Linked DNA regions of Homo sapiens. The protein of the gene in region 1 interacts with the protein of each later gene in a pairwise test. Each region holds a gene or a part of one and is shown on either strand. Other genes may lie near its edges.

What was found.
Region 2: the proteins of SNAP25 (region 1) and OSBPL8 interact in a protein complementation assay, tested with the Homo sapiens proteins (one study listed by BioGRID).
Region 3: the proteins of SNAP25 (region 1) and ZNF177 interact in binary tests that used the Homo sapiens proteins (3 or more experiments, as listed by UniProt).

Annotation. Positions count from the first base shown.
Region 1 is NC_000020.11:10,295,179-10,298,835, forward strand, and holds part of SNAP25 (synaptosomal-associated protein 25), read left to right. Parts: intron 1-1,746; coding exon 1,747-1,872; coding exon of another isoform or gene 1,873-1,876; intron 1,877-3,657.
Region 2 is NC_000012.12:76,353,652-76,357,308, reverse strand, and holds part of OSBPL8 (oxysterol-binding protein-related protein 8), read left to right. Parts: intron 1-580; coding exon 581-683; intron 684-1,287; coding exon 1,288-1,420; 3' UTR 1,421-3,657. UniProt on the Homo sapiens protein: Lipid transporter involved in lipid countertransport between the endoplasmic reticulum and the plasma membrane: specifically exchanges phosphatidylserine with phosphatidylinositol 4-phosphate (PI4P), delivering phosphatidylserine to the plasma membrane in exchange for PI4P, which is degraded by the SAC1/SACM1L phosphatase in the endoplasmic reticulum.
Region 3 is NC_000019.10:9,365,937-9,369,593, reverse strand, and holds part of ZNF177 (zinc finger protein 177), read right to left. Parts: intron 1-3,657. UniProt on the Homo sapiens protein: May be involved in transcriptional regulation.

The DNA.
Region 1 (3,657 bases):
CTGTCTCGGCATGTTTCAAGGGACGATGGTAGATGTACGGCAGTGATGTGAGTCTATGTGCAGCATTGTGGGTGCAGTGGTTTGCCTTCTTTCAGAAACGCATACTTCCCACTCCTTTGACTTTGCCAAAGATGGTATAGCAGACATTTGACATAGCAGAAAACATCACAAAGTCCATATAACTTCTTTTAATCTGAGGAGGGAGGAGATGGGGAGTTGGAAAAATAAAAATTAAAAAAGCCAGACTCTAAGCCCTATTAAATTTAGTTTGGGGATCTCGTTTCATTGAATGGGTCCATGGCCCTTTGGTGCAATTAATTTTGACTGCACTAAGGCCTGCGGCATTATAGACTTGATTGTGGGAGTTGCTGAAATTCCATTGGTACAATTTTCCAGTTTGTCTCTAGGGTTGCTTGGCCCCCAGTCTGCAAGTATTAGAGCCAGTTTTAATAGATGGCTGTGGTCCTCTGGCGAAAGAAGAAGATAAAATGTTAAATTCTGGTGTCTTACAAAAAAAAATGTGAAAATGGGACCAAAGAATGTCTCTTGTTTTTGGACTAAAAAGCATATGGTTTCTACTATGTAAAGAACCTAAAAACATCTTTGATTGCCTTTAATTACAACACTCACCAAAATATGCTGCACATGTTTCTATTGGGCACAATAGGTATGCCTGGATTTTAAGTCTTTTCTCCAAGGCAGCTCAGTGAAATACAGCCCATGGAGACCATACCAGCATTAAACCACTCTCCTCCATTACAACCCCAGGATAGTTTAAACTAGGAGTTTGTAAGCACTCTCTGCCCTGCCCCTCAGCCCAACAAAGAAGCTACTGAACCTGCGTTTCAAATCCTCATGAAGGCTATTACTGTCCTGCTAGTGCCTTTTTCGAGAATGGTCAACTTCTGGAGTAGTTTGGCTTAAATGAGAATGCTTCACTTTCTACTCATGCCTGTAGCTGGTGCATGAAGAAGACGTAGAGGGGTTTCCCTTTTTGGTGCTAGATGGCTTGTTCTCTCTTCTCTTTTCCTGCATTCATTTCACTATGCTTCTTTTACTTTTTGTCTCTGTGGACAAAGGTTTGTACATCAACTCTGGATGTATGGTGACTGTTTGGAAGTACCGATATATTATCTAATTCAAATCACTCTAGAGGCAATGCAAAGACCATCACTCTTGGCCAACCACCAATCCTTTATGTCCTTCATGGAGCTTTGGAAATGTTAGTTCCACACGTGTTGGGAAAAAAAAATATTCCACAGGGATCTTTGCATGATGGTGTGTAAAAACTTGGTTGAGGATGTTTTCTTGATGACAGTGTGTTGCTGTGGTGTGATGTGCACACTCTACTTGGCAGTCTTGTTTTGTGTCTGTCTGCCAGTATGTTTTTCTCTGTTTTATGTCTCCAAATATAATCACATCACTAAAATAGAATTAAATGTCCTCCAGCTACCTTAATCCTTGTCCAAAATCCAAACTAAACCACAAAACAAACCAAAACAAGAACAACCTTGTGGGCAAAGATTGCAGTCCATTGCAATGGATTCGATTGGAAGTGAAATGTTGAGTAGCTGAGGCATGGTGGTGGCCAACTGTTTGGGTCTGGATTATGATATATCGGTATTATCTAATGCCTCGACTTAAAACTCATTCGCTTGGTTCGATTCTTCGCTTGAAGAAGTGACAATTGTTGAGAGCTTGCTCCTCCACCCCTGTGCCTTGTCACTCACCCTCTCTTTTGCATAGGCTTAAATCAAGTGATGCTTACAAAAAAGCCTGGGGCAATAATCAGGACGGAGTGGTGGCCAGCCAGCCTGCTCGTGTAGTGGACGAACGGGAGCAGATGGCCATCAGTGGCGGCTTCATCCGCAGGTGAGCCTCATGCAGCATACACTGTAGCAGTTCTCTATTGTCAAGTACAAACAACTCCAAAACTGAGTGGTTTTCTAAAAAACAACCATTTTATTGCTCATTAATCTACATACCTGCTAAGTGTTCTTTTCTAAGCCTTTCCTGGACCTTGCCTGGGTGGGGTGATCCAAGATGGCCCCATTCACTTGTCTGGTGGTTGGCTGGGGCTGTTGGTGGGGCATGTCTGTTCTTCTCCATGTGGCCTCTTCAGCAAGAGAGCCCAGGTTCCTTACATGGTGGTAGCAGTATTCCAAGGGGGCAAGCCTCAGTGCACTTACCAAACCTTTGCTTGCTTACCTTGTATTTGCCGGTTTCATTAGACAAAGCAAGTCACATGACCACATCCAGACTCAATGTGGCAGTAGACAGGCATCACATTCCATGAGTTTAATTGAATAGAGCTTATAAAAGAGACTACTTACAGAGGGGTGGGCAGGACTAATAACAAGGAATGGTGAAGCACTTCTGAGCTAGCAATAGCAGGAAGTTGTTACCACCATAGTCCTGGGGGACAGGAGAAGGAATGATTATCAGAACCCAGCAATAGTTACGACTGTGGGCAAGGAACTATCAGTAGAGAAATACAGCCACTACCAAAGCTAACAGGGAGTGAAAGAGGGAAATAAATGCTGTAGCCCCTCACTCCTCTTGCCCTGCAGTTTCATTGGCCATTAGCCAAAGCCTACTGAAAGCCAGAGGGTAAGAGGAGCTGGGTGATATAGTCATGAGGTCAGCTCCTGAGAGCACAGAGCAAAGAAGGTCCAAGAACGGATTTGGAGTGAAAATAGAGAATAATGAGCTTCTTATTAATGATTTATTTTGAAACCTAGAATCAAAAGCCAATTTAAATATCTATTTTTAAAAGTTCAAATTATGACTCAGGGGCATTTCCTTTAAAAAAAAAAAAAACTCAAGTTACACACATCAGCCAATTCAGAACTCAGCTCTCCCTTTGCTCCCAGGGAAAGTAGCCCAAGGGTTCTCAAGCCTGGCTGTACATTAGAATCACCAGGGGAGACTTTTTTTTCTTTTACTACCAGTGTTTGGGCCCAATCCACACCAATTGAACCAGAATCTCTTGAAGTGAGACACAAGCACCTGTGGCCCATTAAAGCTCCTCAGGTGATTCTGATATGCACTCAGGGCCAAGCACCATTGAACTAGAAGTATCTCTTAGCTATTGATGATCATTTAAATAAACTTCTTCCCTACAGGAAAAAGCCAGAAAGTTCTCCTTTAGTTTTTTAATTTTCTCTGCCCTGGGCTGCTTTTGAAACCATAATGAGCCAGTCTGCATTGGGAGTTACCATGGGGGAAGGATTTTAACCCTTCTGAATATTTTTTAGCTCAATACCATATATACTAGGGAAATTCTGAAATAAGTACCTCCTTAACTTTCAAGTTGGACTGTGAAAAAATGTAATGTGTTTTGTGAGCCAGCTCCTTCCTCCCATTCCCATTCCACTCAACCTGAAACAATACTCTTTTGTCACAGTTTCACAGTTTTTGACTCTGAAATCACCTATGCACCATGCCACTAAAAAACCCATGTTATTAACATATGAGTAAATAAAAATCATCTTGAACAAGTAGCTCTCCTTGGAGTTCCTGGGAGCAAGCAGGGTTAAGGGGCAAACTGTAATTATCATTACTCTTCCCATTGGTGTCAATCCCAAGTGTGAAAAGAGATGAGCACAGAGACTCTGACTTAGCACAATAAGCTTTTTATTGTATTCTTAATTTGAG
Region 2 (3,657 bases), on another chromosome or scaffold:
AACAACCCTGTGAAGTCTGGTATTATTATCCCTATTTTTAAAATGAGAAAGCTGACACTTGCAGAGAGGTTAAGTAGGATCTGAACAAAAATGGAAAGGAAGGAATGCATATGTAGGGAATTTGGAAAAACATGTACAGCTTGCTGATTGGCAGTAAAAATTTGCAGAAGTGGTGTCGAAAGGGATTTAAAGTTTAGGTAACTAAACACTCACAATAAAAAATTGGAAAAAAGGGCTCAAGAAGCTGACTTCAGAGGTAGGCAAATGGGCAAGGAACAGAAGAGAGTAATACCTTCCTCAAGTTAATATGTATTTCTAATGAATTATTTCTGTTTTAATTAGTTAAAAAAACTGGTGCCATCCAAAATTCAACTAATGTGTAGTACTTTAAATATATTTGTAGTGTTCTAGTATTGCAATGATGTGTTTGAAACTTCAAAAGTGCAGAGTATTCATATTACTATGCTAATCTCTAGGCTACAAAAACAAATGCCCAGGAAAATTTTTATTACATGAGACACATTAAATTGAACTGTAGATTATTTTTATAGTTTCAACTTCATTCTAAATGTCTTTTTAGCTCAATCAGTAAAACCAAGTACAAGAAGAAAGAAAGGAATAGAACTGGGAGACATTCAGAGTTCCATCGAATCTATAAAACAAACACAGGAAGAAATTAAAAGGTAATAATATAATGACACTGACTATTCATTTGAGACCAAGGAGTAGTTAAGAATCCTGTTATATGGGAAATCATATGCAGACTTCATATTTTTATAACATTTAGCTAAGCTAAAATACAATGTTTAGCCTCTATCACCTGATGTTTGACACTTACGAAATTCCTCCAGCACTAAAATACTTGGGAAGGAAGGAGAGGTTGTTTTTTCTCTGTAAGGGTAGAATTGGAATCACTTTATTTTACTCCTATAGCATGCTAGGAATGTAGCTGGGTTGCATGTGGAGGTGGGATTGTTTCTGAGAAAGTCAGTTAACAAAGGCCTCTATAGTCCCCTCTGTGCATGGCTGTTATTTCATTGGAATGCATCAGTTGAAATATTGAAATACATCCATAACATTGGGTAAATATTTACTCCCTGAGCCCTTAAGTATTCCTCTTTGCAGTCCCAGACCCCGCCCCCCCCCACCCCTACATACCACCCCATGACCCAGCAACTAAAAATTATTAACATTAAATGCTCTGTGACTGTTTAATATCAAATTGTGGGCTCTATGCCAACATTTCTGGCAAATCATTACAAAATTTGTTGTTGCTTATTTTTATAGAAATATTATGGCTCTTCGAAATCATTTAGTTTCAAGCACACCGGCCACGGATTATTTTCTGCAACAAAAAGACTACTTCATCATTTTCCTCCTGATTTTGCTTCAAGTCATAATAAACTTCATGTTCAAGTAGAAGTTCTCTACCATTGAATCAGTGAACTAGAAAGATCTGATTTGGCCTGGGACCAGTGTTCAAGTTGGTTTGGTCTTTATTAAAAATCACAATATTCCGAAAACAAAAAAACCTAGGAGATAAATGTAGAGGTATTGACTTTTCGTATCTTTTATCTTCACACTGAAACAAGAGCTATCCTATTTGATTATTAAAGTGAGCTATGTGTTAAGTGCCAGGACATTTCTAGCTTTTGTGAGAATGTGTCTACATATGAGTATAATAAACCCACATGTATACACAATTGTCTCTTATGTACTCCTACCTGACAGTAGTCTTTGTATTCTATAGTATGTTCTGAGATATAATGTTAACATTGTTCATAACAAAAAATGCTATCAATCTTATAAATATATGTAATCTATTTTCTTCATAAAACAGGCACAAAAGTTTTATCAGTAAGGAATTACAGATTGAGAAATGATGGAATAATAGACATAATTAATTCAATACACTACTGTTAAAATCATTTGCAAAGCACTCAGCTCAATTATCTTCTTAGAAAGAAAGAAAAAGTATGAATGGTCAAAATGAATACATCGAGAGAGATAAATGGCAAATTGCTTTTTTAAAAGTTTACATAAGTTTTTTTTAACCCCTAGAATTTAATATTTGTAGATGCAGGTAAATATATATACTTACGTGTATATCAGTATAAAAACACTGGTGTGCAATTAATTGGATTGATTATAATACCACCTTAAGCACTTGCTGAAAAAAGTGTGGTCAAAATTGATTGCTGTCCTTTTGTCTTATTTTTGTTTTTCTTAAGTCAGCTGGTTCATAACATAGGCCAAATTCTAGAGATGTTTATAGAGCATTTGAAGTGCTGATAATTTATGTTTTTTCATTATGAAAACTTATTTTAGCTTTAGACTCCAGTGTGTTCAGTGAATAAGTAGAATATAAAAAAATATAACCAGTATTTTACTTCAAAAGCCAAAAAGAGGCAATAAGAAAAGACACTTTGTGGTGGCCTTTATGTGTGCATTAAAATTGGTTTCTGTAAAACGTGTAATAAGTTGAGTATCTACGAAGAGTATCAAGTTCTGAAGTTTAATTTTTTTATTATCCTCCTCTCTTCTTAGTAACTTCTTTCTGTGGCAAAACCACAATTCTTTAAGATTCCTATTGTTCAGGCTAAGGCAAATTTTTTTGTTTGTTTCTTCAGTTTAATATTTTGATTTTGTGTTTTTACGTAAATATTTATATTCCTTGAAAGCAATTTTTGCCAAGGTAGTTCAGTTTAGGAATATGTTGTTCTAAAATATGTCTTAGAATCCTGAAAGCATAGATTTTGAAATGTTTTTTTAATGAAAATGAAGGTCAGAGAGAATAATTGCCCTGACCACATTTGCCTTTCAGTAGGAGGAGGCTGTGAAATAGTAAAATTATAATCGTTTATGCCATGATAAATACAAGATTGGTAAATAAATACATTGATTGGTAAATTATGAGAATCAAAATGATAAAAAGAGCCTGCTTTTTTCCCTAACCAATATAGCTATCTTAAGTATCCTTAGGTTTCTGTGAAGAACCATTTCCCATGTTTTCTTGGCAAAATAATGCTGTATTCCATATGTACATGTGAAATGATGTTTTAAATTGATAAAAGCTTAAATAAGATCTACCTATACCCAGTATTTTCATGATATTAGAACAAATGGGTTTTTGGTTATATTTTATATTTGTCAATATAATTTTTGTATTCACATTCTGTTACACTCTGCCTATTCATTGATATATGATATTCTGTAAATATTGTACAATTTGATCTTTTTTATGGTTTAAATTAGTTAATTACATACAAATTGATTGGCTTATCACAAAAATCATTTCATCAGTAAACCTTGTTAACATTTTGTACTGGTGACCCACCTCTTAGGACTTTGGTCTTATCCACGTGTATGTTGTTTTCATTTGGTCCAAATAATATTTTATTTGTATGGGTATCTTCTAAGACTAAATAGGTAGTTGTGTTCTTTATTTTTAAAATTTCTTTTTAGAGCAAATGTTATGGGTTCTTACCCAAAGAGTCAAAAACTATTTCTTAAGAAAGAGCAGAGTTATTCATGACTGTTCTTTATACACTAAAAGCATGCATCTAATCTAATAGTCCTCTTATTATGCTTTTAGTTGTATGAGTCTCTTTCTATGAACTGAACACAAAACTCAGGAATTGGTGGCTTAATTTTAGA
Region 3 (3,657 bases), on another chromosome or scaffold:
CAGTAAGTGTACAGATGGGCTAAATTCTGCAGTTTAAAAACAGACTGTCCTGGTAGATTAAGATAAACTAGCTCTATGTTATTTCATTAGATGCACTAAAATCCACAACAACACATAAAAATTGAGTCTCAAAAATAAGAAAGATATACCAGGTGAATATTAACCAAAATAAAGTTTGTTTGCTAAATTAATTTCATAGATTTTGAGACAAAAGGCACTATTAGAGGTAATGACATGAGGATGTAAAGTACCAATTAGGAAGATATAAAATTCTAGTCTCATAAAACTTATAAAGCAGAAGCTAGCACAATTAAAGGATAAATAACACAAATCATCACTATAAGACTTTCAAACACTGCTCAGCAATAGAAAGATCATATGAAAAAAAGGATATGAAGATTTGAACAACACAATGAGTATGCTTAATCTAGCACACTGAGGGACACTACTGAATGTATGGAGTATACATAGATTCTTGAAGCACACATGAAGTGTTTATAAAAACTGACCATACTGTATGGTGAATATACTGTAAAGCCAGTCTTAAACCTTCCAAATTTGGTATATAAAACATCTCATGGGCCCCTTAAATATATATACCTACTATGTGCCCACAAAAATTAAAACTTAGAAAAAGATTTGGTATACAAACATGTTCTCTGACATGTCTTAATTACAATGTAACTAAGTTGTAAGTTAATAACGAGATTACATTGAACTATATGAAATGGGTGTTTTGGTAGTTTTAAAATATGGTTGAATATTAGTGGTTTCATATTTTTCAAGCAAACAGAAAAAAGTAACACATTTGGAATTCAGAAAACATCACACTTCCAAATAACTTATGCTTTTATAAAAGAATTGAATTAGAAAATACATAATACTATGGTTATTGATTAGTTCTAAGTACCACAACTTGTAGAATGTAGCTAAACTGGTCCTTAGGAAAAAAATAAGCTTTATATGTTTATATTAGAAAAGAAGTGAACTTAAAAATTAACTTAAGCAGCTGGAACGGGAAGAGCAGAAAATACGATGATGAACTAGAAAACAACAGTATCACTCAAGCTACAAACTGGTTCTTTGAAAACTACTAGGAAAAAAATCGGGCAAAATTCTTCAAAGACAAAAGGAGAAAAACACAACTACAAATGTTGCAGAGATTAACAAGACATGAATAACTTTAATCAAATTCAAAACTTTCAGGAAATAAATTGATTCCTACAGAAATACAACTTACCAAAACTGTGTAGAAATTACAATAAAAAGAACTAGCTGGTGATGGTTGAGTAACACTGTGAATGCAATGAATGCCACTGACTTGTACATTTAAAAATGATTAAAATGGCAAATTTGGCTTTAGGTATTTTACCACAATTTAAAAAATATAAAAGAAGAATCTAGACTGATCCCGTCAGCAAGGTGCTAGGTCTTCCCAGCTTAACTCACTGCCCAGATATTCTTTTAAAACAGAAAACAAAACTAGATTATTTAGGTTTTCACCAAAAAACACCATGCTCAAAGGCTTTATCAGTCAGTTATGCCACTCAAAGAAGAAAGAATTCCAGTCTGGATGAAAATATTCCAGAGATTAGGCATATTTATGAAGACTGGTTACTTAAACTACACTTCAATGTAATTTGTCACTAATGTTTGCATTATTTCAGGTATAGATAACTTATCCACTCTATAGGCAAGAGCTGGGTATCTGGAAGGTTTTATTTAATATAGCCTTTATGCAAACCCCAGAATTGTGTATGGTTCAAAATGTCATGTTTGCCTTTGGTTATTCTATTAACAGCAGTTTACAATATTACAAGGGAAAAAAATATGGTCACTTTTAAACTAATTTCACAAAACAGTTTAACTTATCAAAGGGATTACCGTGATTAAGAGTATAAAAGGAAGAATATTCTTTGAGATTGGCATACTGATATCAAACATGACAAGGCCACTTTAAGTAAACAAAATTATAGGCAAATTTCAACATAGATTCAGATATTCTAAGGAAAATAAGTCCAAACAAAAAATGTCAATAAATAGGAAATATAGTACAACAGAATTAAGTTAGGTTTACCAGAGGAATGCAAGAGATGCTTGCTATTAGAAAATCAATATAATTTGCTTCATTAATAGAGCAAAAGAAAAATTGTATGATCAACTCAAAGTGATAAAAACCAGTATCACATAATGATTTCAAAAATAAATTTTTTCAACCTGAAAACTTTCGGGCTGAATTTAATTCAGCCAGCTTATTTATTTTTATTTTTATTTTTTTTTTGAGACACTCTTGGTCTGTTTCCCAGGCTGGAGTGCAGTGGTGCGATCTCTGCTCACTGCAACCTCGCCAGGTTCAGGTGATTCTCCTGCCTCAGCCTCCCAAGTAGCTGGGACTACAGACGCGTGCCACCACACCCAGCTATGTTTTTGTATTTTTAGTAGAGACGGGGTTTCACCGTGTTAGCCAGGATGGTCTTGATCTGCTGACCTCATGATCCGCCCGCCTGGGCCTCCCAAAGTGCTGGGATTACAGGCGTGAGCCACCACGCCCAGCCTCAGCTGACTTTTGAAAACACAATTCAAAGATGGGCAAATGATCTGAATGTACATTTTTCTAAAGATAAAAAGGTCAACTGCACATGAAAAGATGCTGAACATCATTAGACACCAGGGAAATGCAAATCAAAACCACATTAAGATACCACTTCACACATTAAGGTGAGTGTAATTAAAAAGACAAGTGTGGATGAGGATGTGGAGAAATTCTCTTGTTTTTTTGTGGAGGGGAGTGAAGTGGGAAGTGGTGCTGCCACGTTGGCAAACAGCCTAGCATTTTACCAGAAGATTAAACATAAAAGTTCGTCTCATGAACAAGGCATTCCACTCCTAGGTATATACCCAAGAGAAATATTCACAGCAGCATTATTCATATTAGCCAAAAAGGAGAAACAACCCAAATGTCTATCTACCGATGAACGGATAAATGAAAATGTGGTATATCCATACAATGGACTATCATTTGACAATAGAAAATGAAGGCCAGGCATGGTGACTCATGCCTGTAATCCTCAGCACTTAGGGAGGCTGTAGTGGGTGGATCACATTAACCCAGGAGTTCAGACCAGCCTGGTAACACAGTGAGATCTCATCTCTACCAAAAATTTAAAAAAATAGCCAGGCTTGGTGGCCCACACCTGTGGTCCTACCTACTCGGGAGGCTAAGGTGGAAGGCCGAGCTAGGGAGGTCGAGGGCACCACGGCACTCCAGCCTGGGTGACAGAGAAAGACCTTGTCTCATTAAAAAAAGGAATGAGGCTAGGCACGGTGGCTCACGCCTGTAGTCCCAGCACTTTGGGAAGCCAAGGTGGGCGCATCACGAGGTCAGGAGATCCAGACCACTCTGGCCAACATGGTGAAAGAACGTCTCTACTAAAAATACAAAAATTAGCCGGGTGTGGTGGAGCATGCCTGTAATCCTAGCTACTTGGGAGGCTGAGGCAGGAGAATCACTTGAACCCGGGAGGCAGAGGTTGCAGTGAGCCGAGATTGCGCCACTGCACTCTAGCCTGGCGACAGAGGTAGATTTGGTGCTGTGACTCAGATCTGGGGACCTCCCTTGGGAGATCAATCCCCTATCCTCCTGCTCTTTGCTCTGTG